Linked DNA regions of Homo sapiens. The main gene of each other region encodes a partner of the protein of the gene in region 4 in a complex. Each region holds a gene or a part of one and is shown on either strand. Other genes may lie near its edges. The genes, in order: RHBDD1, VCPKMT, UBXN6 and VCP. A codon is read from its position in the direction of its gene.

Region 1 (7,022 bases), on a different chromosome or scaffold from region 4:
ATAGGATAGAGGGTGGTAGGTCATAACCAAATCCCCAGTCCTAGCCTAAGACCTAGTAAGGTCAACAGGAAGTTGTTCCTAGTTGCAGGATTGTCCCTGAATGCTGCTTCGGATGGCATCTTCCACGTGGAGCTAAGAACAGAATGAAGCCACAGGCTTATTCAGAGACCACAAGCTTCACAACTTCTGTTTAACACATCTAATTATGATTGTAACAATACTGTCTGGTTTTGATGCTGTTACGTTTGAAGGTAGATCCCAGCCACTGATCAGAGCATTCAGATGGATCATCTTCCCCCAAAGCCCAGGGCTTCTTTCTGTCTCCACAGCACCCCCAGCTCAGGGGTAAAGTGCCCTAACCCTAGGACTGGTGAGAACCACCTTCCCAGTTCAGTTTTCTCCCTGTCTGCAGGTCCATCTATCTTCTCGCTCAGGATGTGGGTATCTCTTAGAGGGTGAAGGGAAGTGATTTGTCAAATGGTTACCAAGGGCATGGAGAAAGTTAATTTACCTCTTAAAATGACTTTTATATTCCTTTTACATTGGTGAAATTCATTCTCCTGTTTTTTTATGTGTGTGATGTTGAGAGATTCTCAGTTTTGATTGAATAAGATCATAATCTCATTTTTATTTTAAAATTGAACACTTTTATAAAGCTTAAATGAAACAAGACCAGTTAAATTTTTGAGATGGAACTTTTGTGGAAAATGCTGAATGTTGGAGGATGACGCAATGAGTTCTCCGGACTGCCAGCCTCCCTTCCCTAGATATTTGAAATTATATTAGGGCAATTAGATTATAACTCAAACTTCTGAAAACCATTTAGAGATAGATAAGAAATTCATTTCACTGTATTGTACTCTAAATTGTAAATGAGATTCAAGATTAATTGTTTAATAGGTTGAAGTTTTAAATTGAAACTTCCTTCTATGTTATTTTATATCATATATGCTTCACCATGAAGGTTGATTTGAAACCAGAGTTTCAGAAATACCAATATTATTATATTCTTTTCATCTAAATTGAAGTTATTATTATTTTTTTAACTGGTCCTGGCCACTTCTTTGTATCTCTCAAACTGCCACTTTCTTTGTCATTTTTACAACTATTAATAGGTGGCCGATTGTACTGAGCCTGAGCATAGAATAAAATAAGTACAGTGGTCCCCCTTATCTGTGATTTTGCCTTCTGCATTTTTAGTTAGCCCCAGTCAACCTTGATCCAAAAACATTAAATGGAAAATTCCAGAAATAAGCCATTTATAAGTTTTAAATTTCACACTGCTCTGCATAGCATGGTGAAATCTCACCCCGTCTCACCCAGGACGTGAATCATCTCTTTGCCCCGTGTGTCCATGCTGTCTCTGCTACCCACCCGTGAGTCACTTAGTAGCTGTTATGATTATGAGATGAGAAAAGCATAGTATATATAAGGTTCAGTACTATCTGTGGTTTCAGCCATCCAGTTGGGGGTCTGCAGATAATGGGGGGTGACTATAGAATTTCTTAGCTTGGCTGGGGAGCTAAAAGCATAGTTCCTACTATTCTTGCCAGAAAATGGGAAAAAATGTTCAATCCCATAATTTTATTATATGAAGTAGTGACACGGACAGGAGGCAGAAACAGTGGGTAGAAGAGGGCGGTTCCCAGCAAAGGCCCCACCCTCAAGCCTGGAAACCCACAGCCCTAAATGGGAACAGGCATTCCTGTTTTTGCATCCAAAAGCTGCCTATTGGCCCACCACACCCCCCTCTCCTGTATCCATATAAACCTGAGACCCCAGGCTCCAGAAGGAGACAAGGAGATGAACAGAAGAGCAGAAGAATAGCAGAACGGCGCAACAGAGAGAAGGAGCATCTGAATGCTAAGAGGGAGTTTACCTGGACATGATCGGAGAGGAGATATGTCACTGGACAGCCAAACTCCAGGGGAAGACCATCTTCCCACTCCATCCTTCTTCCACCTCCCCATCCATCCCACTGGGAGCCACCTCCATCACCCAATAAAAGCCCCACATTCATCCTTCAAGTCCACGTGTGATCTGATTTTTCCTGGATGCCAGAGAAGAAACAGGGAAACAGAAAACTTTCACACTGGCCCTCTGCCTTTGTGGAAAGGCAGAGGGTTCACTGAGCTGTCTAACCCTTAAGCTGCCTGTGGACCGCAAGGTTAAAAGAGCGCACTGTAACACACACCCACTTGGGTTTCAGGAGTCGCAGATACACACCCCTGGACGTTGCCGTGAGGCTGAAGCCTAGGGGCACTCATCCCAGCTCCTGCACCTGCCCATCTGTGTGCTCCCCTTCCCGTAAGGGGTTTAAGCATGCACGGTCACCAAACAGACAAGTTACACCACTGTGGCACATCCTGCAAGCGGGGGGGGAGGGGGGTCAGGGAACTCCTGTTTCAGTAGATATATCTGATGAAAATAATGCTCTCCTGAGGGGATGATCGTGTATGTGGTGTGTGTGCGTGTCTGTGTGTGTGTGCACGCGCATGCATGTGCCATGACTTTTAGCACGTGTGCATGTATGTGAGGGCTTGTCTGGGCAATAGTGTCATTTAGTCAGCTAATGGGAACAAGCATCAATGCTGTTCTCTTTACAAGGCTCCTGTTTGTCTCTTTCTTTCAAGTGTTCCTCATTGCATGTTCTTTTCCTGAGAGCCAGCGAGTCTTTTCATAGCTTGGAGACAAAGAAAATTACTCAGAACCATCTTGCTTGTGGTGTTTCAGGGAATCTCCCCTAGGCTGCTGCCATAGTAGGCGAAATGTATTGGTTTTGACTCTGAGTCTCGTGTAGGTTACCAAATGGCGGATTCTTAGCTCTGTGATTGCCGTGGCTCAGCAAGCACCCTGAGCTGAACATCTAGTGGTTTTAACTTACCTCCTGTTGGTCTTGGTGAAACGGTCCTGGCACACTTGAGCCATTTACTCAACATATCCTTGAGTGCCTCTCATGTGCCTGGCCCTGTCCTGGGTGTTTGGAATACATATGTAAAAGCCACATAAAGGCTATGTTCTTGGAGTCTCCATCAGGCTCTTTCATAACTTTCAGTTTCCCACCTTCTGGAATGAGAGGTCACTATTCCAGGCTGTGGGAATGCGTTCATTTGCTTGGCTTTTTTTTTTTTTTAAGCTTCTAATTTTGTATAATGTATGAATGAGACACCATTGCTGCCCTCAGGGAGTTTGTGTGTGACAGAGAGAGACGGACAGGCAGGCAGACGTGTAAGTACTGTGCCACCAGCAGACTGGCTTCGTGCCAGAATAAGGTAGGAGCCTCAGCTCTGAGGGGAGGCAGGAGAAGGAAAGAACGGCTCTTCAACTGGGGTGGCATTTTTTGACAGAGGTGCTGTTTGGCTTAGCCTATGGTCAGAGAGTGCTTGGGGGATGTGACAGTGGGGCATGTGGGAATGGAGGTAGTAGACGATGAGGTCTCCACCCTCTGACTTTGCAGAGATGGGCAAGGCCAAGTGTTGGAAGGGCTTAAACACACACCGGAGTATTCTGTGAGAACCAGTGGATTTCAGAGGATGGCAATGACACCACTTGCCTTCTGCCTCAGGAGGATAACTGATGGCCGTGTGTGGGATGCACTGGAGAGCAAGAGCTGGCTTGCAGGGAGACCAGCTGGATGATTTTCTTTCATTTATTTTATTCATTCAACACACATTCATCTGGGGTTCACTCTGTGCCCAACACTGGGCATTTCCAAATAGTCCAGATGGCAGTAAGCATGGTTGTGGCAGTAGGAATGGGAAGGCTGGGAGGGGTATGAGAGGCATTACAAACGGGAAGTGGGAGTGGCACCCCAGAAAAGTCTAGTTTAAGGTGCTAGTGGATGTGTGCATGTGTGCGCGGGGGTGTCTAGAGGGTGGCGGGCAGCTGGAAATTGAGGTCAAGTGCTTAAAGAACAACTCGTTGTGTAGGACCCCCCCCTTTGTGGTAACAGCAGAGGTTTTTGAGAATCGCCAGTAATTTCTTAAACTCAGGCTGGTTGGGAGGTCATTCAGCCAGGGAACTCCACAAAGAGTGTTGCCACTTGGGTCAAAGTAGACCTCTGAAAATAAATCTTACAAGTAATTGCTGGTTTTAGATGCCAGTTTAAGAAGAGTTAAACCACTGTCATGCCCTAACGCAAACACTTTCATGCCCTAACTCATCTTTCAAGTTTGAAATTTAAATGTATGTTTCTTTGTTCTGAGTGACTGAAACATACACATGAAGACAACTTTGGTGGATGCAGGTGGGCATCTCAGTTCCTTTTGCTGAGTTTCACTTGCTCTCTGCTTCACTCATCCATGGTGTAGAAAACTGCAGCAGTCTGCCCTGCCATAACACAGATAGACATCATCCCTCACAATGGCTGGATAATTCCAGATTTAATGCCAAACAGAGAAAACTGATTTTATTTATGTTTTGTGATAAGAGGTACAGAAAAAAAACGGAAAGCGATGTAATGACTTGTCTTGACCAAATGCTTCCACTGCTCTGGAGGAGACAACCCACTTCCCCTGGTTAAGGAGGGGTGTTGCGTTTTAAACATGTGGTGGTTGTTATTCATTGTACTTTTTTTTAAGGTAGGAGATGTTGTTCTTTGGACTGAGTTAAATGCTGCTTAGCATAAAAGACTTGATGTGGAACAAAGCCTGCAGACTGTGACTATTTGACATGCACTGGGCTAATGAGAAGACAGAATGTCTCTAATCAGCAGCAGAACAAACACTCACAAAGGGTCTCCTTCCCTCCTAGGACTTCCTTCGCTGGGCATCTGGCTGGGATTCTTGTTGGACTAATGTACACTCAAGGGCCTCTGAAGAAAATCATGGAAGCATGTGCAGGTACAGAATAAAACACCTTTGGCATGACAACAGCTTGGAAGTTCATGTTAATTTTAATGTGAACAGAAGCAACCCCAAGTTTCCCTGTGGTTCAGCTCAAGAATTCCCTAATATGCCTGTTTTTCTTTTTAAACCGAAAGGTAAAACAACCAGTGCAGTTCCTTACATTGCTCCACAAAAGAGGCTGCAAACTTAAATTTCGAATCTGATACTTTCTTAGGGGACAAATATCAGTATATATTTATACCCTCAACCTTAATGCTACCCGCAGAAAACCACGATTTCCTAAAGAATGCAGAGAACTAAAGTGCCTTTAAAATAATGCATTCTTCTATAATAGTCCATGAATTAATATACGTGCAAGGCAAAGGTGAAAAAGAAAACAAAGCCTGGACTGAAGTGCATGGCCAGTATTTTAAAGAATTCAGACTGATGACCGGGTCCTTGGTGGATGAGCCATATATTCATGCATGGCGAAACCAAGTCTGTTATTGCTTGAAGCTTAGCTCCTGCTTTTTTTAATTTTGTTTTTCCCTTCAAATTGATACTCAATGAAAATATTTCATTTAGAAATACTTGTATTTTTTAGACCTCTTAATTTTCAATGCGATTCTCATTTTGACTTGTAAGAAAACTGGTTTGCAAACACTTGTTTTATAGACTGAGTTCCACTATTTCATCTTTTATTCATGGGAAGTCTTCTGAGACTATTTTACCTTTTCTTGAACCATAAATAATTTGTTTCACAGTTTGTGCTGATGACTGGTATTCTTGAGAACCATATAATATTCATGATAGTAGAAAGCTTTCCAGGCACTGCACTGGCACCTTTATTAGCAGGTCGTGTTCACTTTTGGTTGATTTTTACAGGCTGTGTTGCATTTAAGCAGATCCTCATTTTCCCACGTTTGCTTATTAATGTGTTTCCACTGTACGTACTTAGAGGAGGCAGTGGGAGCTTCATTTATTGAAAATGTCCAGTTTTATTGTATTTTCAATACAATTTAATACTCATTAGTACTGATAAAAGAGATGATTCTCGGGAGTTTAATGTCTTGTTTCTTTTTTCTGTGTCTCATGATGAAGCGGTTAGTAAAGCTTTTTGCAGACATGTTATGAAATTTAAGCAAGTGCTTTGTTTAATTTTTAAAGAGGATTTTCCCCTAATTATAATATTTAAACTCTTAGTTTTAAAAGCCTTAAAAAATAAGTGGTGACTTATTTCTACACCACTCCATTTTCAAAGTAATAAATACAATAGCAAATTAAATAGGAAAATTAGAACACTCAGTGCAATTTGCAAATAGCCTGCGAACTCGGCCTTTTTTCTGTGAGCTGAGAATTGAAGGACACAGGAACCCCATGGAAAACGACCCAGCATGTGGAAGCTGCTGTCTGATGCCTCCTGGAAGAGGAGGGTCACCCTGAGGGTGTGGCCCTTGGCCCTCCCTCTCTCATTTCATTCAGCCGTGCCAAATTGACTGAGTAGACAGTCCTACTGCCTTCTGTAGGGACAAGAAAGAGTGAAGTCCCCTAGGAAGGGTAGGGAGGATGGCTCTCCTAACACCTTCTTTGAGGAAGGTTCTCCATTTAGCCAGAGTGTCTCTGCTTGTACAGAGACATCAAAGCCGAGGCTTGGTACTTTGGCAGGCAAAGACTAAGGAACTTCAGTGAGTGTAAATTAGGGTTTCATTTTCCACTACACACACACACACACACACACACACACACACACACACATTCTTTTCCCTGTAGGGACACACACACACTCTTTTCCAGTTAGGGCTGGCCCCCAAACAAAAGGGAGTTTATTTTAATAAGTGTTTAGAAATCATTTGAAATGACCTTGGGCTTTGTCCAGAGAACTTTCTAATTACTGGAACAATTAGCATTTAAAGCTTTATGGCTGCCATTAAAATGTTTATTTCTTTTACGTTTAGGCGGTTTTTCCTCCAGTGTTGGTTACCCAGGACGGCAATACTACTTTAATAGTTCAGGTAGGCACTGTATTTCATTTAATAAATTTTAACTTATTTTTAAAATTATAGTGTTCAGCTCTACAGAGTACTTTAGGATACTACTAGTTTCTGCTGTGGTAGGGTCATTCACATGTTGTGTAACTGTGCCTCTAACACACCTGGAAGCTAGATGGAGGGTAGCCTAGGGAGCATATTTGTGGGG
Region 2 (5,458 bases), on a different chromosome or scaffold from region 4:
AGCCAAGATTGTGCCACTACTGCACTCCAGCCTGGGCAACAGAACAAAACCCTGTCTCAAAAAAAAAAAAAAAAAAAGAGAAAGCAGGAGGGCATAAAAACTGGAGGGTGAAAAGACATTTAAGGAACCTGGGTGGACTATTATAGTCAAGGTCAAACTTATTTTTACAAATTTCATGTTATAAAACAAGCTAAAAAGTGGTCATTTGTCCTAAGACATCATTAATAACAGCTAGCACTATCTGTACCTCACAAAGCACCACAGATTTAGGTTACACTGCCTTGCAAACTGCTTAATGAAATGCTAAGGACAGTATGAACAAAGTATCTTGGCGGGGGGGAAACCAGCAAAGGAAACTTTTAAGACTGAAATAAACCTGAAAGGAATGAACTGATTTCTTGACTTGTATCCTTAATGTCTCTAAATAGGGCTGCTTTTGCTCCTGTTAACTGTTTAGATGTTCACTTTCTTCAAAGGTATTTCTGAAATTCACAGTCACAAGGTCTCAAAAACAATGTTTATTTTAACACATAAAATGTACCATCTAGCACCAATGCCTATAAATACCAGAATTCCATCCGGTTACTACTCTTTGGAACAAGTATGATTAAAGTCCTTGACAGATTATTGTATATGAGCGAATGGCTTCATAACATAAAACAGAGAGACACAGAACAGAAATTCATTTGGTATATACATATAGAACTACATTTGTAGTTATTCAAAAACCTTTCACTGCTTCATGTAAACAATACCAGTATTTTTAAGCCAGATTTTCCTGGAACATATACATAAAGTGCATGAGCCACGTAAGTGCATAAGCCTGAAACTGGTCTTTCTATTCTCACTCCATGCTCAAATGAAAAATCTGTAAAGATATCTTTTGTTCCTCCAATCTTCTGATTTGTCTTCTTAGCAACTCATTACAGTACAATTTACTGATTAAATCACATAGATATGTATGGTGGAGGAAAAGAAAACTTTGGCTAATATAAGTATACAAGACAATATCTCAGTTCTTTTTAAAATTAAAAGAACATTTCAGTATTAAAGATATTTTAAAAGAAATGAAGTGGAAAATACAAATGATAAATATTGTATAATTATGTACAAAATGAAAACCTTTTAAACTCTGAAGACAAACTAAAATTTACTAGTTTGAATTTAAAACATTATTATATAATAGCAGATAGTTCTCTTCAGAAATTTATCTCTAGCTTCCTGTAAAAGGTCCAGTCAAATCATGTTGGCTGTTTTTGGCAGATTTCAGCCTCGCCTCAATACCAATTTTTATTTGAATAACTGATTCCCAACATTTAAGAAGAACTTGATGCTGAACTAAGTAACCTAAGCTGGATTCAGGGCCATTGGCAGGCAGGCAGGCAAGCAGGAATTTTTCGTATTGCAGACAGCCCCTGGTGGTCATCATCTATACATCGGATCTCTAAGGACGTGCCGGAAAAAAAAATCTGTGAACACAATCTTCCCATGCTGTATTCACATGCTCTATTCACATCTTTAGTTTACCCAGGTTGTTAGAGCCTTGGGTAAGATGATTAAAGGCTTCACGATGGAAATTTCTATAACAAAAAAAAAGGAAACTTAAAAGATTGATTTACCACAAACTATTTACTGGGTATTTAATAATGCCTAATATGCCTCATAATGCCTAGTATGCCTAGTATAACAGTGGCTACATGCAATTCAAGTGAACAACCATGCATGTTTATAGATGGTTCTTTGCTGACACCTAACAAGCAACTGAAGAAAGAACAGATGCATTGGACATTATCAAAATTAAAATATATGTGCTTCAAAAGACACAACATAGGCCGGGTGTGGTGGCTCACACCTGTAATCCCAGCACTTTGGGAGGCTGAGGTGGCAGAGCACTTGAGGCCAGGAGTTCGACACAAGCCTGGCCAACCTAGTGAAACCCAATCTCTACTAAAAATACAAAAAAATTAGCTGGGCGTCGTGGCACATGCCTTTAGTCCTAGCTACTTGGGAGGCTCACACAGGAGAATCACTTGAACCTGGGAGGCAGAGGTTGCACTGAGCCAAGATCATGCCACTGCACTCCAGACTGGGTGACAGTGCGAGACTCTGTCTCAAAAGAAAAATAAGAAAATAATAAATTAAGAAAATACAAGACACACTATTGAGAAAATGAAAAGACAACCCACAGAATGGGAGAAAATATTCACAAATAATGCATCTGTAAGTGTTTAGTATTCAGAATGTATAAGGAACTCTCACAACTCAAAGTAAAAAGACAAATAAGTCAATCTGAAAATGGGCCAAGCATTTCTTCTAAATACAGAAAAGATACCCAACATCATTAGTCATTAGAGAAATGAAAACCACAGTTTAGAGACTATCTCATACCCAGTGAGATGGGTATAATTAACAAATGTTGGTAAAAATGTGGAGAAAACTGGAACCCTTATACACTGCTAGTGAGAACGTATAATGGTATGGTAGATTAGGAACACAGTTTGGCAAGTCTTCAAAAAGTTAAACAGAGTTCCCATATAACCTTGCAGTTCTCCTCTAGGTATATACTCAAGAGGTCTGAAAACATGTTCACACAAAAATTTGTAGATGAACGTCCATAGCAGCATTATTCATCTCATCAATGGATGGATAAGGTGTGGTACAGCCACATAAAGGAATATTATTCAGCCACAAAAAGGAGTTAAGTGCTAATGTGTGCTACAATGTAGATAAGGCTCGAGAATACTGTGCTGAGTGAAAGAAGACAGTCACAAGAGGCCACACAGTATGTGACTTGTTACATATGACATGTGCAGAATAGGCAAATCCATAGAGATTAGTGGCTGCCAGCAGCTGGGGACGGGGGTAACAGGGAGTGACTGCTAATGGGTAAGAGGCTTCTCTGGGGGGTGAAATCATTAAAAATTAGAAAGTGGTAATTTACACAACTATGTGAATATACTAAAAACCACCAAATTGTACACCTTAAAAGCGTGAATTTTATGGTATGTGAGTTACATCAACTAAAAAATAAGAGTTTTTTTTTTTGGCCGAAAAAAAAAAAAAAGCCTCTATATTTAGGAAACACAAAATCTTTCTGCCTCCAAAAAATTCTACTTTTAAAACTGCACAACAGCTTCAGTTAACACTAGATCCCTTAAAGCACAAAACAGTTTTTTTTGTATCTGTGGCACCATGCCACATAAATGTTAATCTGAATAATCCCGCTGCTGCCTTTTTACTTAGATTTAGTCCTAACACCTACTTCTGTTCCCTAAGTTTTATTTGCTTTTGACTAGAATTCATATAATCAGAAAACTTTACCACAAACATAATCAAAGCAAAGATGATAGAAAAAGTGTGGGCTTATTGAATCTAGCATCCTTAATTCATAAAACTAATCATCTCCCTGCCTTACACTAGTCACATATACCAAAGGTGCTGGAAATACAAAAATAGATGAAAGGCCAGGCGCAGCAGCTCACACCTGTAATCCCAACAATTTGGGAGGCCGAGGTGGGCAGGTCACTGGAGTCCAGGAGTGCAAAATCAGCCTGGACAACATGGCAAAACCCTGTCTCAACAACAACAAAAAAAATACAAAAATTAGCTGGGCATGGTGGTGCATGCCTATGGTCCCAGGTACTCAGGAGGCTGAGGTGGGAGGATCACTTCTTGAGCCTGCAAGGCAGAGGCTGCAGCAAGCCGAGATTGCACCACTGTACTCCAGCCTGGATGACAGAGTGAGACCCTATTTCAAAAAAAAAAAAGGATGAAGTACAATTCTTCCCTCTTTCTACAGGCTCAAACCCTAGGTGTCACTGAGGCAACCTGCATAAAATGTGATTGTTATACAGGGTAAAACATGCACCAAGAAGCGGGAAAATACATAAATTCTACTTAATTGAGTGCATTTATCTTTTATGGACTCATCTGCCTTGTTGTATTTCATTTCCTGTAAACAATTTTTAATAAGGAAAAGTTCACAAAGGTAAGAGCAGGCATTTTAAAATCTCACAGAGATAAAAGAAACTTATAAATAGCTAATAACTTGTCTGAGGTAATACCCAATTATAGAGCTATACAATTTACGCCTATGGAGAAGCTGGAAAAGGCCTTTAAAAGCGAAGCCTGGCCAGGTATGGTGGCTGATGCCTGTAATCTCAGAACTTTGGGAGGCCGAAGTGGGCGGATCACTTGAGCCCAGGAGTTCGACACCAGTCTAGGCAACACGGTGAAACGTGTCTCTACTTAAAAAATACGAGAAAAAAAAAAAAAAAAAAAAAAAAAGCCTGGCTTTAGAGCAAAAACCCAAGGCAAGATAGATTAAATTATCTTGACAATGAAGTTACTGCCTGAGTCCAGTGAATCATTAGAGCTGTTTCTCCACATCAAAATCAACGCCCATACCACACATATGCCCTGAAATAGTGTCCAGCTGATGAAACCTCCTTGGAGAATGAAGAACTGAGAATGTTATTTACCGATTTTTTCTTTCTGATGTATATAATATGAATATCTTCACTTCGATACTCTTCATCATGTTTTTCCAAAGGAATTTTTTCAAAGTCAAAATCTAGCTGAAGGAGCTATAAATTTAAAAGAGACATACTTCAAATTCAATAATATGAACTGACCTGTGGGTGACAGAAGTCAGAATGCTGGTTACTTTTTTTTTGAGAGTCTCACTCTGTCACCCAGGCTGGAGTGCAGTGGTGCGATCTTGGCTCACTGCAACCTCCACCTCCCTGGGTTCAAGTGATTCTCCTGCCTCAGCCTCCTGAGTAGCTGGGATTACAGGCAAACGACACCACACCCAGCTAATTTTTGTATTTTTAGTAAAGAAAGGGTTTCACCATGTTGACCAGGCTGGTCTCGAACTCCTGACCTCATGATCTGCCCATCTCGGCCTCCCAAAGTGCTGGGATTACAGGCGTGAGCCACCGCGCCTGGTCAGTGGTTACCTTTTGAGTATTGCCTGGGAAAGGGCAGTGTGCAAACCTTCCAAGATCCTGAAAATGTCCTCTATCTTTATGTTGGTAAGTAGTTACTTGGGTGTATACATATGAAAAATTAAGCTCAGCACTTGACTGATACATATGCATTTTACATATGCTTTACCCCAATAAAAGCTGTTTAACAGTACGAAATTTTCATTATGCATCATTTCAAAAGTTCATGAACATTTTTCATATTCAAGAAAAACATGAAAATAAACAAACATTTTAGTATTTGTTACCTGAGGCAGTCATATACCTGCTTTCTCATTAAACCAAAGTAGTCCTTCCAGCAGACAAAACTGCAGGCCTATATAGATGTACCCTCAAAAGGAGTCACTCACAATGTGATAGATTTGTGCCCATATAAGGGTTTGGGTGATCACTAGGGGAAGAAGAGTGACAGATACATAAAACCCTATATACTATATTTTGCAACTTCCTGTAAGTCTTTTCTAACTATT
Region 3 (7,886 bases), on a different chromosome or scaffold from region 4:
CAGGTCACAGCTTCGTTTGCTGAGCACCTACTGTGTGCCAGGACCCTGCTGGGAGCTGGTCGGCTCGCTTGGTTTACTCCTCCTAACAAGCTGCCAGGGAGGCCTCACCATCCCATTCCTAAACCCAAGAGGGACAGGAAGTCCGGGCGATGTGCCCCATGCCACGCCACCCTCGTGGCGGGACCCTGGGGAGAGCGGACAGCAGAACCAGCCTCGCCCTGGCCACTCCATGCCAGGCCTAGGGCTGTGCAAGTACGAAGAGCTCATGGACTCGTGGCTCCACCCTGTTGAGCCCTACACCAAGGAGAGTTCCGTAACCCACGTGGCACAGTGACCTGGCAGAGAAGCCTCGCAGAGAAGCCCTTTCTCCCAACCTGCTCGGACGCGTCTGTCTCACCCGTCTCCTCTCAGGCCCCTCCCATGAACTTACGGGCTGTGTCAATTTCTGTGCCGTAGGTCTATTAAAACCTTCTGGGAGGCCAGGCTCTCAGTTCAAGCCCTATACTCCTCTGGCTCTGCTTACATACCCGGGCAGCCCTCCCTCCTCGTCCCACCCCTGCCTATCTAGTCCTCCCACAGCTGAGCATCTTGGGTGGAAGAGGAGATGACTCATGAAGACCCACCCCGGCCTCATCCGATATCTGGGTCTTTCCAACAAAATGCCATTTCCCAGGGCACCTCACCCCAACCAGCCATGGACCCTGCCCCCCTGGGCAGCCACAGGGACCCTTCTGGAACCTCAGCCAGGGAGCGTCAGCATCACTCCACTGCACAACGCCCTCCCACTGCAAAATCCTAAAGCTTCCCTTGGCCAGAGAGCCCTTCCCAGCCTGGCCCACTGCCCTCCCGTGGCCTGTCTCCCCTGGGCTCCCCGCAGTTCTTCCCACACCCCAGCTGCTCCCCACTGCAGGCCCCTGCACTGTCTGCACCTTCTGCCCAGAATGTTCTCCGGGGGAGTGGGAGGAGGATGGGGGTCTGGAAAGGGCTAGAGCTGCCGCAGGGAGAGAAGGAGGGGCAGATTTCCCCACAGCTGAGTCTCACTGTGTCCTGGGAGAGGCCTTCCCAAACCACCTGACGGCCCCTGCTCACCCTCCTTGGAGGCCCTGGGCACTCATCCAAGCACTCATCGCCTGAGCGCTCATCCAAGGTCTGTTGGTTTATTTGTCCATCGGCTCCCTCTAGAAGGTGAGCCCTGGGACAGCAGAGGCCTTCTCCTGTCCACCACTGCAGCCTAAAACAGGACTTGGTGCCCACCCACCCCACACACCCTGGATATGCAGTCTCGCTCCACAAGGGACCTCCGCACCGCTTCCTTTCCCAACCTTCCCCTCCAACCTTCCCCTCTCCGCCCAGGCTCTGGGCTGATCCAGCCATCACCCCGATACCCTGCATCCTTCCTATCATGCCCAGTCCCAGTGGCCCCAGCACCCCCCACCCACTATTGGTTGAATCAATGAAGGGCTCCCCCGATTTGCCCCCTTCTCTCCCTGACCCCTCTCCCTCCCTCACTCAGCCTTTGCTCTCCTGCTCTCCCCCAGGAACCCTGACGTCCTCACTATGCCCCTACCTCCATCACCACCCCACTGCCCCGTGATTCCTGACCCCCACTTCCTGCCACCTCCCTGCCTCTCCCAGCCCCCACTCCCTCACAATCCCTTCCACTATTGCTTACAGACCCGTGTCCTGGCTGCCTGGCTGACTTCCTCAGTCCCTCTCCATCAGTCCCCACCACCCTCTGGCCAGCCAGCTCCCTGCAGCGGCCCCAGCTCTCCAGTTTCCCTTTTCTCAACCCAACAGCCCTCAGCCTTGCACCTTCCCTAGCTCCACTTCTTCCCCGGCCCTCCCAGCTGGCTCAGCCCTGCTCAGGCCCTTCTCTCCAAGTCCTCCCTAGACAATCCGGAAGCCTGCCCGGCATCTATCTCCTTTCCCCTCCTCTCCCACTTCCATAATCCACTTGGCACAGTGACGTGGCAGAGAAGCCTCGCAGAGAAGCTCTTTCTCCCAGCCTGCTAAGACGCGTCTGTCTCACCCGTCTTCTCCTCTCAGGCCCCTCCCGGGTAAGAGTCCATCTGTCAGAATCCCTCACCTCCACTCTCCTCACACACCTTCCTCAGCCCCTCCCTCTCAATTCGCCAGGACATCCCAGGTCACTGACGACGCTGCCCACCCCGGCCTCCCTGGCCTTCCAGACTCTTTCTAGTCTCCCATCAGCCTCCCACGTGCTCCAGATACCAAATCCAGAACCCCTCTTCCCATGGATACCTCAAAACAACTCTTCACCACCCCACCCCACAGCTGTGCGTCCTCCTCCAAGCTCAGCTCCCATCCATGGTCACCTAGATTGCCCCAAATCATCCCGGCCTCTTCGGCCAGCCGGGTCCCCAGACAGAGCTCTCCCTCACCACCCGGCTCAGGACTCATGATCCCGTTTTTCCCCAAAGGTCGTTCCACTGACCCCCAACTGCCTACAGCCCCGTCGCCCTAATCCCCCGCCACTGCATCGGACCCTCCTGCGGCCCCGCCCCCGAGACCTCCCCTCCCGCCCCGCCCCCTGCGCTAGTTCCCCTCCCCTCGCCTCCCCCGCCGCGCCCCCGGGTCATACCCGCCCCCTCCTGCCCCGCCCCCAGATCTCTCTCCCCTCCCCCTGACGCCCACCCTCGGCCCGACTTCGTCCGCCCCCGGCGCCTCTCCCCCTCCCCTGACCCTCGCGTGCCGCTCCCAGCCCCTCATCCTCTCCGATCTCCCGAGCCGCCCAAGGCCCCAGATCTCTCTCCCCGGCCGTCCCCGCCCCGCAGGGCCTCAAGCCCCTGCGTTCCTCACGCACCCCACGGACTCTTTGAGCTTCTGACCGGGTCCCGCGCTCTTGAACTTGATGTCGGCCTTGAACTCCTGAAAGAATTTCTTCATGGTGGCGGCTGGCCCGGCGGCGGGGGGCCGCGGGGGCGGGGGGGCACGGGGCCCAGTCGGGGACGGGGCCGCCGGAGACCAGCCACCGGAAGAAAATTAAAAAAAAAAAAAAAAAAAAAAAAAAAATTTACCTCGCCGCCGGAAGTCCCGCCTTCCCCTGGCCTGCCACGTGACAATCGACTAGACGTGCCTCTCTAGCGCTCGGTGCCTTGCTGGCCCAGGGCGGCCGCTCTGTACGCTGGAGCCGCGTCTCTGTGGTTCTTCCGGACTCCGTTGCCAGGGCGACGAGTGCACCTCTCGATTGGAGACAGGGCATTCCGTGGCGCTCCCCAAACGGTGACAAACGGTGATAGGACAGGGACAGGCCAACTGAACCTCGCAGAGAAAGCACTGGGCCCTATCCCTTTCGCTGCTCAACCTAAACTAGGCGCGGTGGCTCACGCCTGCAATCACAGCACTTTGGAGGCTCAAGCGGAAGGATTGCTTGATCCCAGAAGTTGGAGACCAGCCTGGCAACATGGCAAAACCTCGTCTCTATAAAAAAAAAAAAAATAAAATAAAATAAATTAGCCGAGGGTGGTGGCGCGCGCCTCTCAGCTACTTGGGAGGCAGAGGCGGGAGGATCGCTTGAACCCAAGAGGTCGAGGCTGCAGTGAGCTGTGATCAAGCCACTGCATTCCAGCCTGGGCGACAGAGAGAGACCCTGTCTCAAGCAAAACAAAAAAAATTCCAACCTTCTCTGTCTCCCCAGAGCTTACGTGATAAAATCCCAATTCAATGTTGGGTATTGGAGGCCCCCACGATCTGGCCTGTTTTGGTGCCTGAAGCACCCCCCCGCCACCATCACCACGTACCCTAGGTAGGAGCTGTTTAAGAGGATGCACCTGGGCCGGGCGCGGTGGCTCATGCCTGTAATCCCAGCACTTTGGGAGGCCGAAGCGGGCGGATCACAAGGTCAGGAGATCGAGACCATCCTGGCTAACACGGTGATACCCCGTCTCTACTAAAAATACAAAAAATTAGCCGGGCATGGTGGCAGGCGTCTGTACTCACAGCTACTCGGGAGGCTGAGGCAGGAGAATGGCGTGAACCCGCGAGGCGGAGCTTGCAGTGAGCCGAGATCTCACCACTGCACTCCAGCCTGGGCGACAGAGCGAGACTCCGTCTCAAAAAAAAAAAAAAAAAAAAAAAAAGAGGATGCACCCAATGCACCCAATTGGGACCTGGGGATTGGGGATCCACTTTGGTGGACACCAGTTAATAGTGGCGTACTTTGGTCTGTGCAATCCACAAAGAAGATACACAAAGTGACAGTTAAAACAAGCCTCAAAAAATGGGAGTTGGGGGTCAGACGTGGTGGCTCATGCCTCTAATCCCAGCACTTTGGGAGGCCGAGGCCGGCGGATCACTTGAGGTCAGGAGTTTGAGACCAGCCTGGCCAACATGGTGAAAGCCTGTCTCTATGGGCACCGGTAATCCCAGCTACTCGGGAGGCTGAGGCAGGAGAATCGCTTGAACCCGGCAGGTGGAGGTTGCAGTGAGCCGAGATCTCGCCATTGCACTTCAGCCTGGGCAACAGAGGGAGACTCTGCCTCAAAAAAGAAGGAGTTGGAATGAGATACACAGAGACTGATGGAGGAGAAGCCTCCAGGTGAGGAAACAGCCCACCCCAAGACTGAAATTGAAATATCATGGGTTGGACGGGTGGCTCAGGCCTGCAGTCCCAACATTTTGGGAGGCCAAGGTGGGAGGATTGCTTTAGCCCAGGAATTGGAGGCTGCAGTAAGCTAGGATCACGCCACTGCACTCCAGCCTGGGCAACAGAGCCAGACCCTGTCTTATTAAAAAAAGAAAAAAAGGCCAGGCACGGTGGCTCATGCCTGTAATCCCAGCCCTTTGGAAGGCCGAGGCGGGTGGATCACGAGGTCAGGAGATTGAGACCATCCCGGCTAATACGGTGAAACCCTGTCTTTACTGAAAATAATTTTTAAAAAAATTAGCCAGCCTTGGTGGCGGGCGCCTGTAGTCCCAGCTACTTGGGAGGCTGAGGCAGGAGAATGGCGTGAACCCAGGAGGCAGAGCTTACAGTGAGCCGAGATCATGCCACTGTGCTCCAGCCTGGGCAACAGAGCAAGACTCCGTTTCAAAAAAAAAAAAAAAAGGAAAAGAATTGGGCCAGGTGCGGTGGCTCACACCTGTAATCCCAGCACTTTGGGAGGTCAAGGCGGGTGGATCACTTAAGGTCAGAAGTTCAAGACCGACCTGGCCAACATAGCAAAACCCCGTCTCTATTAAAAATACAAAAATCAGCCGGGTGTGGTGGTGTGTGCCAGTAATCCCAGCTACTTGAGAAGCTGAGGCAGCAGAATCACTTGAACGCAGGAGACAGAGGTTGCAGTGAGCTGAGATTGCACCACTGCACTCCAGCCTGGGCGACAGAGCGAGACTCTGTCTCAAAAATAAATAAATAAAGTAAAAAAATAAATAAATAAAAGAAGAATACAGTGCAACCCAAACTTCAATCTTTCTGATCTCCAGTCTCCTATCTATGAAATGGGGATAAGAATAACACTCTCTATAGATTGTAGGGGTGATCATGTGATTAGAAAGTTCTCAGTATGCCGGGCACGGTGGCTCATGCCTGTAATCCCAGCTACTCAGGAGGCTAAGGCAGGAGAATCACCTGAACTTGGGAAGCAGAGGTTGCAGTGAGCCGAGACTGCGCCACTGCAATCCAGCTTGGCAACAGAGCAAGACTCCGTCTCAAAAAGAAAAGAAAAGAAAATTACAGCTCATTGTTGTGAATAAGGAATTGTATACCCTATAACTCAAATAAAGGTACAACACTGGGCCAAAGTCACACAGCTGGAAAGTGGCAGAGACCCATCCCACTTCTCCAAGAATAAAATCCTATGGGGTTCCTCAGCCTGGTCTAAGGAGATCCTAACATTAATAGGCCCTAATAAATTTCTATTTCAGGTTCTAAGTATTCTGAGGGTTTCAGAAACCCCGTTTCTTGTTATCACCCACCTTTCCACCTCTGCCTCAGTTACCTGGAAGTATTTCCAGCTCACCTCTGGGCCTTTGCCTAGGCATTCTCCTTTACCAGAAGGGACTTCTCTTCCTCTGCCTAACTCAATCCTCTTCCACCATGACGCTCTCCTGGACTATCTTCCTCATGTCGGATGAGGTTATGAGATTAAATAATTTAACATTTCTGCCAGGAGCGGTCGGTGGCTCACACCAGTAATTCCAGCACTTTGGGAGGACAACATTTATTTTTCTTTTCTTTTCTTTTCTTTTTTTTTTTTTTGAGATGGAGTCTCGCTCTGTTGCCCAGGCTGCAGTGCAGTGGCACAATCTTGGCTCACTGCAAGCTCCACCTCCCAGGTTCACACCATTCTCCTGCCTCAGCCTCCCGACTAGCTGGGACTACAGGCGCCCGCCACCACACCCGGCTAATTTTTTGTATTTTTAGTAGAGACGGGGTTTCACCGTGTTAGCCAAGATGGTCTCGATCTCCTGACCCCGTGATCCGCCCGCCTCGGCCTCCCAAAGTGCTGGGATTACAGGCATGAGCCACCATGCCCAGCTTTCTTTTTTTTTTTAGACAGGGTCTTACTCTCTTCCCCACGCTGGAGTGCAGTGGCACAATCATGGCTCACTGCAGCCTAGAACTTCTGAGCTCAAGCAGTCCTCCCCACTCAGCTTCCCAAGAAGCTGGGACTGCAGGCATGTGCCACCACACTCAGCTAATTTTTTTTTTTTTTTTTTTTTTGAGAAGGAATTTCGCTCTTGTTGCCCAGGCTGTAGTGCAATGGTGCGATCTCGGCTCACCACAACCTCCATCTCTCGGATTCTCCTGCCTCAGCCTCCCGAGTAGTTGAGATTACAGGCACCCGCCACCATGCCTGGCTACTTTTTTGTATTTTTAGTAGACACAGGGTTTCTCCATGTTGGTCAGGCTGGTCTTGAACTCCTGACCTCAGGTGATCCGCCTGTTTCAGCCTCCCAAAGTGCTGGGATTACAGGCGTGAGCCACTGCACCCGGCCTCCGGGTAATTTTTTAAAAATTGTTCAATCTTGCGCAGTGGCTCACGCCTGTAATCCCAGAACACTGGGGGGCCGAGGGAGGAGGATTGCTTGAGCCCTGATGTTCAAGACCAGGATGGGTAACATAGTGAGACCTTGTTTCTACTAAAAAATAAAAATAACAGGCCAGGCACAGTGGCTCACCCCTATAATCCCAGTACTTTGGGAGTCTGAGGTGGGTGGATCACAAGGTCAGGAGTTCAAGACCAGCCTGGCCAACATGATGAAACCTTGTCTCTGCTAAAAATAAAATACAAAAATTAGCTAGGGGTGGTGGCAGCACCTGTAATCCCAGCTACTCAGGAGGCTGAGGCAGAGAATCGCTTGAACCCGGGAGGCAGAGGTCACAGTGAGCCAAGATCATGCCACTGCACTCCAGCCTGGGCAACAGAGCAAGCCTCCATCTCAAAAAATAATAATAATAATAAATAAAATAAAAATAACACCCTGGGCAACATGGCGAACCCTTGTCTCTACCAAAAAAAAAAAAAAAAAAAATCAGTGCTGGTTGTGCCTCCCTGTAATCCCAGCTACTTGGGAGGCTGAGGCATGAGAATTGCTTGAACCTGGGAGGCAGAGGTTGCAGTGAGCTGAGATCATGCCACTGCATTCTGGTTTGTGAGACTCTGTCTCAAAAAACAAACAAACCAAAAATTAGTGAGGCATGGTGGTGCGCACCTGCAGCTTCAGCTGCTTGGGAGGCTGAGGCAGGAGGAGATCGAGACCATCCTGGCTAACATGGTGTAACCCCGTCTCTACTAAAAATACAAAAAATTAGCCAGGTGTGGTGGTGGGTGCCTGTAGTCCCAGCTACTTGGGAGGCTGAGGCAGGAGAATAGCGTGAACCTGGGAGGTGGCGCTTGCAGTGAGCTGAGATCGCGCCACTG
Region 4 (7,509 bases):
CACCACACCTGGCTAATTTTGCATTTTTACTAGAGATGGGGTTTCACCATGGTGGTCAGGCTGGTCTCGAACTCCTGACCTCAGGTGATCTGCCCACCTCGGCCTCCCAAAGTACTGGGATTACAGGCGTGAGCCACAGCACCCAGCGCTCTCTCTTTTTTAAGAGCGGCCTCGTGTTAGTAAGGCTCAGGAAAACATAAGCATTAACCAAAGTAGGAAGGCCAGACAATGAAGGAAGCAAAGAAAATAAATTTTTAAAACGAATTTCTTCATTCAACAAATTCATGAGTCTCTATTATGTACCAGGCATTGTTCTAAGGGCTGGGGATACTGAAGTCAACAAAACAAGACAAAATAGTATTCCCATTGGAAATATCCTCACAATTTGCAAGAGACAAAGAAAAATGCTGTGCTCAGCTAGGAAGCCATGGGGTTCTTACATCTTTGGGTCCTGATACACCCAAGAGAAAAACAAACCCCATTCATCTAACAAAATGGTAGGCCTTCTGCTAACCCTCACACATAGGCTGCATTTTTAACCACTGCCTCTAAACTAGTTTCTAACGACAGTTTCCTCTGCTCAAATTTGCTTCCCCCATTCCAAAAGTCTGCCACTCCAGGCACAATGCTGCTGAGTAGGCAGACTCTTCCAATGCTTATCAACACACTAGAGGCCAAGCATGCTCAATGTGACAGTTGAGAGCAATGTAAACCCACGAGCTCTCCCACTCCTGTCCCATCAAAATACTCTTCCAGGGACTGCCCATCTTCTTGCTTGACTTATAGAACTGGGACTGGAGAAAAATAAAACGCCAGATGCCTCTAGTCACCATAGTTTTTTATTTTTTGAAACGGAGTCTCCCTCTGTTGCCCAGGCTGGAGTGCAGTGGCGCGATCTCCCTCACTGCAATCTCTGCCTCCCTGGGTTCAAGTGATTCTCCTGTCTCAGCCTCCAGAGTGGCTGGGACTACAGGTGTGCACCATCACCATGCCTGGCTACTTTTTGCATTTTAATAGAGATGGGGTTTCTCCATGTTGCCCGGGCTGGTCTCAAACTCCTGACCTCAAGTGATCTGCCTGCCTCGGCCTCCCAAAATGCTGGGATTACAGGCCTGAGCCACTGTGCCCGGTCAATAGTTTGTATTTTAATCTCAAAGCTGTATCCTAGGAAAACCTCCATTCTGCCTACCATCCCGGACTCTGGCTCTGGAGATGAGTGGTATGCCCTTTTCTTAAGGTAAAGCCTCTAATTCCCCATCTACCTACTGAGATCAGATGTGGTAATCTCTAAAAGACTGAATTTGGCCTGACCATGGGCCAACAGCAGTTCTGGACACTCTTTGGGGCAATCCTCCATTGTCTTCTGTATAAGTCAATCCCTTTCCAGAACTGCACAGGGGACTCCACGGGACTTGGAAGGGTTTCAGCTAAGAGTCATCAAGGTGACCAAGAGGTTAGAAACAGCTGATGATGCCAGGTTCCAAGAATTTTAGATTTTTACTTTTGAAAATAAGAGGCTGACTGCATATAAACCAAAAGAATACTTTCAGAATAAGTGACTCTTTTAAATAAGCAACTGAGTAATACTTTATCCGAATTCAGAAACTTGAGAAAAAGGAACACACCTCAAAAAACTAATCTCTTCAAGGAAGGAAGGTAATTTGCATAGAGTTTCCTTGGGCTGGCTGTGTTTTTTTTTTTTTTTTTTTTTTTTTTTTTGCCTCTAAAAGCTCTCTATTCTAAATTGAATGGGCTGAGGTAGCCAAGTTTTATCTAACGCTTTCCTAAGGATGGAGGTGGGGTCAGAAAGCCCCAGAGCCCGGGTAATTTCTCAATATAGCTGGTTGGGGAAAGGAGTGCGCGCACGTTTGTGTTTTTGAAGAGTTAGTGCAACTCTAAACTGCACACCACGAAACCTGGAAATCTGGAAAGGCGCACAAAACACGAACTGAGATTCCAACTTTAGCAAGAACCTAAAATGTTAAAGAAAAATTCCTTTCTCCCCACCCACGAGTCATAACATTAAGGAAAACTGGCTCAAACTTTCTAGTATGAACAACAGGCCTAAAGTAAGAAGACCAGAAGCGAAAGGTAGGGCTCGCCCTCTCCCTAACAGTCCTTCACGACTCAGGTCACACACAGAGGATGCCCACCTCCGGCCCCGCCGACCCGGCTCCAAAAAGGCGGCTGTGAGCTTCCCTGAGCTCGGCGGGCCTTCCCCGACCCCGGGCTCCGCCTCGGTGGCAGAGCTCCTGAGGCCTTCACATGGCGCAAAGTCCACGCCCACCGGGCCCGGCTGGGGCCTCGGGCTCGCGGGGCCTGCTCTCTCCGGGGACCAAAGGCTTTCGGCGGGTGGTAGGCCGGACGGCAGACTGGCGCCCCAAAGCCCCGGGGCGCCGCGCCGGCGGAGTGGGCCGGAAGACCTGGCCAGGCCCAGACGTCCGTTCTAAGGGAGCCAATCGGGCGGGCCGGGGCCTGCATGACACAGCACGATCCGGCCCAGGCTCCGACCCGGACCCAACGCAAGCCCCGCCTAGGGGGCGCGCGGGTGCGCAGCTGGCCCCAGCCGGGCCTGCCGGGTCCACGGCCCCTCACTCGCCCCCTAGCTTCCCTTCCCTCTTTCCTGGTCTCCACCTCTCTGACGCGCCCACGGCCAGGCCCCGCCGGGCCTACCCTGCGCGGCTGGTCCCGGTGCGCGCCGCCGCAGCAAGCGAACGGCGCGCGCACACTCACTCGGCTCCAGAAGCCATGGCGCGCGCCTCTCCCGGCCGGCGGCTGTGGCGGCCCGCGGGTAACGGCTACGAGCGGTGGCAAGCGACCGACTGGGCCGGGGCTCGGCTCTTCCAGGCGGTGGGCGAGCAGCGGCGACAAACCCGCAAGCGGCTTCCCTCTCGCTTCCTCCCACCGGCAGCGAGGCGTCGGGCGAACAACGCTGGCTCCTGATCCGCGAGGTGGCAGTGGCAGTGGCAGCGGCAGCGGCAGCGACGACTCAAACGACGGTCGCAGACGCTTCGCTGAGACTGAGCCGAGAAGAGCCGAATCATCGGAAGGGAAGCTGCTCCCACCTCAGCCAATCAGCGCCTGCCCTGCGGACTCTCGCCCGCCTCTCCGCGCCTCTCCCCAGCAACCCGCAGATCACAGCCAATCAGGAAATTCGCTTGCGGCCTGGCTCCCGCCTCAGTGATGCGACACGCCTAGTAACGCCACGTCAATTGGCCGCAACGCTACGCTTCCTCGACGGATTGGAATTCTCAGCCAATCAACGAAAGGAATAGGGCGAGATCGATTAGTGAAAGGAGACCCTTTAATCCCTTAGAGGCGGACTCTCCCACTTGGCTCCAGTTCATTGGCTCCGGAGTTTATCCTCCTGGAAGAACGTGGCACAATAGACTGAACCCTTGTATTAGTCTAGTCCTATTGTGGTAACCCATACACCCATCTTCTCCCAAAACCTGGAGATCTTCTAAGACGCCATCACCACCCTGACACTTCTTGCTCCTTCTCAACGCTGCCTCCAACCACCCCTACTCTGAACTTTCTGACTAGCACCCCACTCCTACCCCATTGTCACTGCACCCTCTGGTAACCCCAATCCCACAGCCTTTGCAGTTTCTCAGCGCTTGTGCCTTTCTTCCTCCCGTCATTAATATTAATACCTTATAATAAGGCACTCAAATCCAGAGAAGTCAAAGGGCAACCACAGAACACACAGCCAATTCAGTAGAACCCAAATTAGCAAGAAAACTGCATATGCTGGGACTTGAAAATCCTTGGGCCCCAAATAACAGGGGTCCCTGTTAGTAGTCAACAGGCAGCTGTTGGTGATATGCTGACTCAATTCACCTTTCACCCTGTACCCACACAGACACATTTGACTAAGACGAGTCGAATTTCTAGAATTTGGAATTAGGAAGGGAGTGAAGAGTTACTCTGAGAGAAACCTGCCTGTCTCTAAGTAACAGGTACCTGCCCTTGTCCTGAGAGGCCTATCTAGACCACCCTTCAGACCCAACTCCACTCATTGTCACTGTCCTGGGCTTTGGGGCTCTGCATTCAGGCAATGTGAAGGACTAAAGCCACTGCCTCCAAAGTGAGGATTCCTGTAGCCCTTTCCTCATACCCAGACTTCAAGTTCATAAGGTAGACGATGTCAGGAAAGGGCATCATAGACAACTAGCACTCAACTAGACGGTCACAAGCCTTCCCACGCAAGTATATGTAGTAGGCAGACGAGATAAATATGAAATTTTACTCGACAACAGAAAAGGAGAAACAGGAAAAAAGGTGCCTCGAGCAAAGTCAATGACTTGGTGGTGGCAGAGATTGTTTCCTCCAAAACGAGAATGGTAGTAACTAGGGCAAATTTCACAGGCCTACCACCAATCTCACCAGTCCAGGAATTATATAGGAATGGTCACATTCCTAATGATGGTGAAGCAGAAAGCCCTCCCCACAGAGAGACAGCCCACTGGGGACCCAGCTCAAGCTCTTCAAAACGTGGCAGCTACAGGTCACAAGACTTTGGCAGAGATGTCCGAAATTCTTCAAGGAAGGCGTCACGATCAGAGGGACGGATCCAGCTCAAATAGCTTTCTAGGTACAGGGGGAGAGACCTGGAGAGAAAGAAGGATGATGCCTAAGGGTGAAAGATTGGCAGAAAGCTGGGCAGCCATACCCCCGCTTTCAGTGTTCACCACCCACAATAGGTCCAAGGACTCTAGGACACCAACTGCCCCTCAGCCCCAAGCCAGCAGGCCTGAGCCTCACCACAGAGCATCTTCATGTGACCCCTTAGTTTGGGCCTCCAGCCTCCACCAGAGTGCAGTGGCCTCATCCCTCCGATCTAGCCTCTTCAGAGTCTGAAGCAGGTGAAAGTAAGTGTCTCGATTACCTGTAGCCCCAGCCCAGAGTACAGAGTCTTAGAACTTGACATAGTCTTAGGCATTGTTTTATAAAAAGGGAAACTGAGGCCTAGAGAGAGGAAGTATCTTGCCTACACTCACATATGGAAGCGGGGGCAGATCATTCACAACCATTCCCATCCCAGTGTCCATCATCTGCCCCCTACTCCTGTGCAACCCACAACAGCAGAGTCATGGTCTTTGTGTCTGAGGATATCGGGGAAACCAGGGAACTCTTGGGAGCCCTGCATACACACTGTGTATATTTGAACACCTGGATATATCCCTAGGTATATATAGCACAACCCCAATCACCCCTCCTGTCTGAGAACACCACTCTTACACTTACGCCCAAGTATTTCCCATGGGCCTCTCTGTCCTTGCACATCTATGCATAGCCGACGTCATGCAAGTATACATACCTGGGCACATCTGCACACTGAGGAGGAAGTCCTGTAAGGCTTTGGTATCCTGGCCGCTGGCTACCCATTCCAGTCCACGACTAATTAGGGCGGCTGCCCGAAGCTGCTGCAGTGCCGCATCTGACTTACATCCCTGCTCACAGTTGAAAGCTGCCCCTGGGGACCACTCCCAAAGTCAAGAAGTGTCTTCCCAGCCTCACAGTCACCAAAACCCCAAATCCTCCTCTATTTCTTCTTGTGTCCACAGTCCCTTTCTCTTAAGTCTCCTGGTGGGCTGGGACACATTAAAGGGAACCCACTTCCACCACTACCACTTCCAGGAGGTAAGAGGAAAACTGAAAGTTTAGATCACCTTGTTCTTTTTCCTCAGGTGTGGCCCGGAAGAGCAGCTCGAGGCACCTGAAGTAGGACACAGAACAGGGGTGAAGAGGAATCAATTTCAGAAACTCTAGGGTAAGTAGGTGAACATGGAGCTCACCAACTCAGGTCCCAATCAGAAAATCATCCCTCCACACCCCCTCTAGGACCCCGGGCTCACCTGCTAAATTCACTAATTGCCACTTTTTGGGCACCCAGTTGAACCCAGGCCTGGCCCTGAAGCAGGTGGGTGGCAGAGACCCAGAGTGGGCAGTATGGCAGTTCCTTGGTTCCTTTTCTGGCATCTTCCCACAGCCGGGACATCTTGGGTAGCAGAGATGATGTGCGGCTGAGCAACTCCTCACATAGAGTCAAGGCATCTTGGGCTCTGCCTGCCTGGATCAGTGCTACCGCTGCCTCCAAAAACACCTCAGGCATACAGGGCCCTGGAGGGGAGGGGGGTGGGGAGAACTGGAGTGGGAAGAAGAAGCAGTGTCTTGAAAGGCATGAGCCACCATCCCCAACCTCTTCACCAGGCTCTGGTACCATGCAGAGTCCTGGGCCCCCAGACTGGACAGACAGAATAGAGGAAAAAACAAAAAATTGCAGTCTTGCTGTATTTCAAAGGGGACACCAACCCGTCTACCCCATTGCAGAGAAGCTTGAAGACACACCCACCCTTGGCTCCGAGCTATCCAGCAACAGGGCCAGCAGGTCCAAGTAATGCTCTGCAGCGTCTCCTGCCCTGAGGAGTAAAAGCCCATAAGCCTCACCCTAGGCCCTAGCAGGGAACCTGCAAGGGTCCTGAGAATGTTCTCTCTTAGCTAACAGATGGATGTTCATGGGCCCTGAGGAGGAGAAAGGGAGGGAAGGTCTTAGGGCTCCAATTTTGGCTCAGTATGGATCTACCCCAGTTACAGAATGGACTGGGGAAGAGACTTCAGAGTGTCAAAGATAGAGAAGGTTAATGTCTTAGAGAAGAGTCCTCAGTTCAGGTCTAGAAGCAAGGTAAGAGGCTGAGGAGTGGCGACCTATGTCCTGCCACTGCCTCATTCATCCCCCAAGTCACAAGAACAAAAGCAGAGTCACACCCCAGGGGAGGCATCAGAAGTGGGAAGAGAAGCTCAGGTGAGCAAGGGGAACCTCACCTCCCCGTCTGTAGGCACCTGCTTGCTAGTATGTGCTTGGTCTGGCTCTGAGTGCCACAATGAAGGGGTGAGGCTAGGTCAGGTGGTGGCAGTAGTAATTCTACCTCAATGAGAAACTGCGGGGCTTTGGAACTGCATGGGACATTCAAGGCCTAAAAGAGAAAGAAAAAAATTGTATCTATAATCTTTGGGAGCCATACTTCCTTATACTTGGATCTTGACTAGTCAAGTCACCCCATCACAAGCACCTCAGGAATCCTCCACCCCACATCTTCACCTGGCAGTTCCCTACCTCAACTAGCAGCTCCAGACTCTCCAGCTCTGCTGTTGTGTCCCCCAGTTGCTGATAGAGCCTAGAGGCCTCCAGAAGTGGAGGACCCCAGGCTGATCCCTCTTTCAGGGCTGCAACCAAGTACAACAGTGCTCTCTGTGGATTTCCCTAAAGGGATAGGAGGACACGGGCCTCAGCTACCCTTACAAAGCAAAAAGCTATACATAATGCTTGTGGTTTCCCCAATCCACCCTAGGACTGTCTTTACCATCTTACGGTGACAGGACCCCAGTGCTGTGTACACCTGGACCAACACAGGCCGTGGACACAGGCCTGAGGCCGCTTCATGAAGGCTGCTTAGTGCCTTGTCTGGGTTCCCTGTGATCAGCTCCTGGAGACCTGAGGACAGT

The links.
Region 1: the proteins of VCP (region 4) and RHBDD1 are in contact, whole or in part, in a crystal structure (PDB 5EPP), measured with the Homo sapiens proteins. Residues at the interface, in NP_009057.1 of Homo sapiens: Asn33, Asp35, Val38, Phe52, Arg53, Gly54, Asp55, Thr56, Ile70, Leu72, Tyr110, Pro137, Tyr138, Phe139, Leu140, Glu141, Ala142, Tyr143, Arg144, Pro145, Ile175; in NP_001161080.1 of Homo sapiens: Ser300, Glu303, Met304, Arg305, Gln307, Arg308, Leu309, Arg311, Phe312, Asp313.
Region 2: the proteins of VCP (region 4) and VCPKMT are in contact, whole or in part, in a crystal structure (PDB 7OAT), measured with the Homo sapiens proteins. Residues at the interface, in NP_009057.1 of Homo sapiens: Arg239, Gly280, Glu283, Ser284, Arg287, Lys312, Arg313, Glu314, Lys315, Thr316, His317, Gly318, Glu319, Val320, Glu321, Arg322, Arg323, Ser326, Gln327, Leu329, Thr330, Asp333, Pro355, Ala356, Arg359, Phe360, Arg362; in NP_078834.2 of Homo sapiens: Arg14, Ser15, Phe16, Val17, Arg18, Gln32, Tyr33, Ser34, Ser35, Gly36, Gly37, Val38, Val41, Trp43, Asp44, Ile47, Val48, Leu97, Asp144, Tyr147, Tyr148, Glu174, Arg176, Thr177, Met178, Gly179, Lys180, Asn181, Glu209 (codon at 4,532), Tyr210 (codon at 4,529).
Region 3: the proteins of VCP (region 4) and UBXN6 are in contact, whole or in part, in a cryo-EM structure (PDB 8FCO), measured with the Homo sapiens proteins. Residues at the interface, in NP_009057.1 of Homo sapiens: Pro23, Arg25, Ile27, Gln43, Asp47, Gln50, Leu51, Phe52, Arg53, Gly54, Asp55, Leu58, Lys60, Gly61, Lys62, Arg64, Leu72, Glu80, Lys81, Gly97, Val99, Ile100, Ser101, Gln103, Pro104, Cys105, Pro106, Asp107, Val108, Lys109; in NP_079517.1 of Homo sapiens: Pro279, Ser280, Pro281, Ala283, Ser284, Phe286, Glu287, Leu288, Phe292, Phe293, Asn294, Leu295, Glu299, Ile300, Arg302, Glu303, Gln304, Leu306, Arg307, Ser308, Val311, Leu314, Ser315, Val316, Leu317, Arg318, Thr319, Lys320, Ala321, Met322.

What each region holds. Positions count from the first base shown.
Region 1 is NC_000002.12:226,902,041-226,909,062, forward strand, and holds part of RHBDD1 (rhomboid-related protein 4), read left to right. Parts: intron 1-4,752; coding exon 4,753-4,841; intron 4,842-6,781; coding exon 6,782-6,838; intron 6,839-7,022. UniProt on the Homo sapiens protein: Intramembrane-cleaving serine protease that cleaves single transmembrane or multi-pass membrane proteins in the hydrophobic plane of the membrane, luminal loops and juxtamembrane regions.
Region 2 is NC_000014.9:50,108,134-50,113,591, forward strand, and holds the end of VCPKMT (protein N-lysine methyltransferase METTL21D), read right to left. Parts: intron 5,380-5,458; coding exon of another isoform or gene 5,377-5,379; exon of another isoform or gene 4,587-5,376; coding exon 4,482-4,586; exon of another isoform or gene 3,953-4,481; coding exon of another isoform or gene 3,809-3,952; exon of another isoform or gene 1,581-3,808; coding exon 1,566-1,580; 3' UTR 504-1,565; downstream 1-503. UniProt on the Homo sapiens protein: Protein N-lysine methyltransferase that specifically trimethylates 'Lys-315' of VCP/p97; this modification may decrease VCP ATPase activity.
Region 3 is NC_000019.10:4,454,791-4,462,676, forward strand, and holds the start of UBXN6 (UBX domain-containing protein 6), read right to left. Parts: upstream 3,005-7,886; 5' UTR 2,908-3,004; coding exon 2,825-2,907; intron 512-2,824; exon of another isoform or gene 431-511; intron 1-430. UniProt on the Homo sapiens protein: May negatively regulate the ATPase activity of VCP, an ATP-driven segregase that associates with different cofactors to control a wide variety of cellular processes.
Region 4 is NC_000009.12:35,069,604-35,077,112, forward strand, and holds the start of VCP (transitional endoplasmic reticulum ATPase), read right to left. Parts: upstream 3,023-7,509; 5' UTR 2,751-3,022; coding exon 2,734-2,750; exon of another isoform or gene 2,154-2,733; intron 1-2,153. Other genes in the region: FANCG (Fanconi anemia group G protein), read right to left, coding at 4,505-4,613, 4,768-4,891, 5,324-5,479, 5,676-5,722, 5,862-6,151, 6,359-6,425, 6,829-6,980, 7,121-7,267 and 1 more. UniProt on the Homo sapiens protein: Necessary for the fragmentation of Golgi stacks during mitosis and for their reassembly after mitosis. Involved in the formation of the transitional endoplasmic reticulum (tER).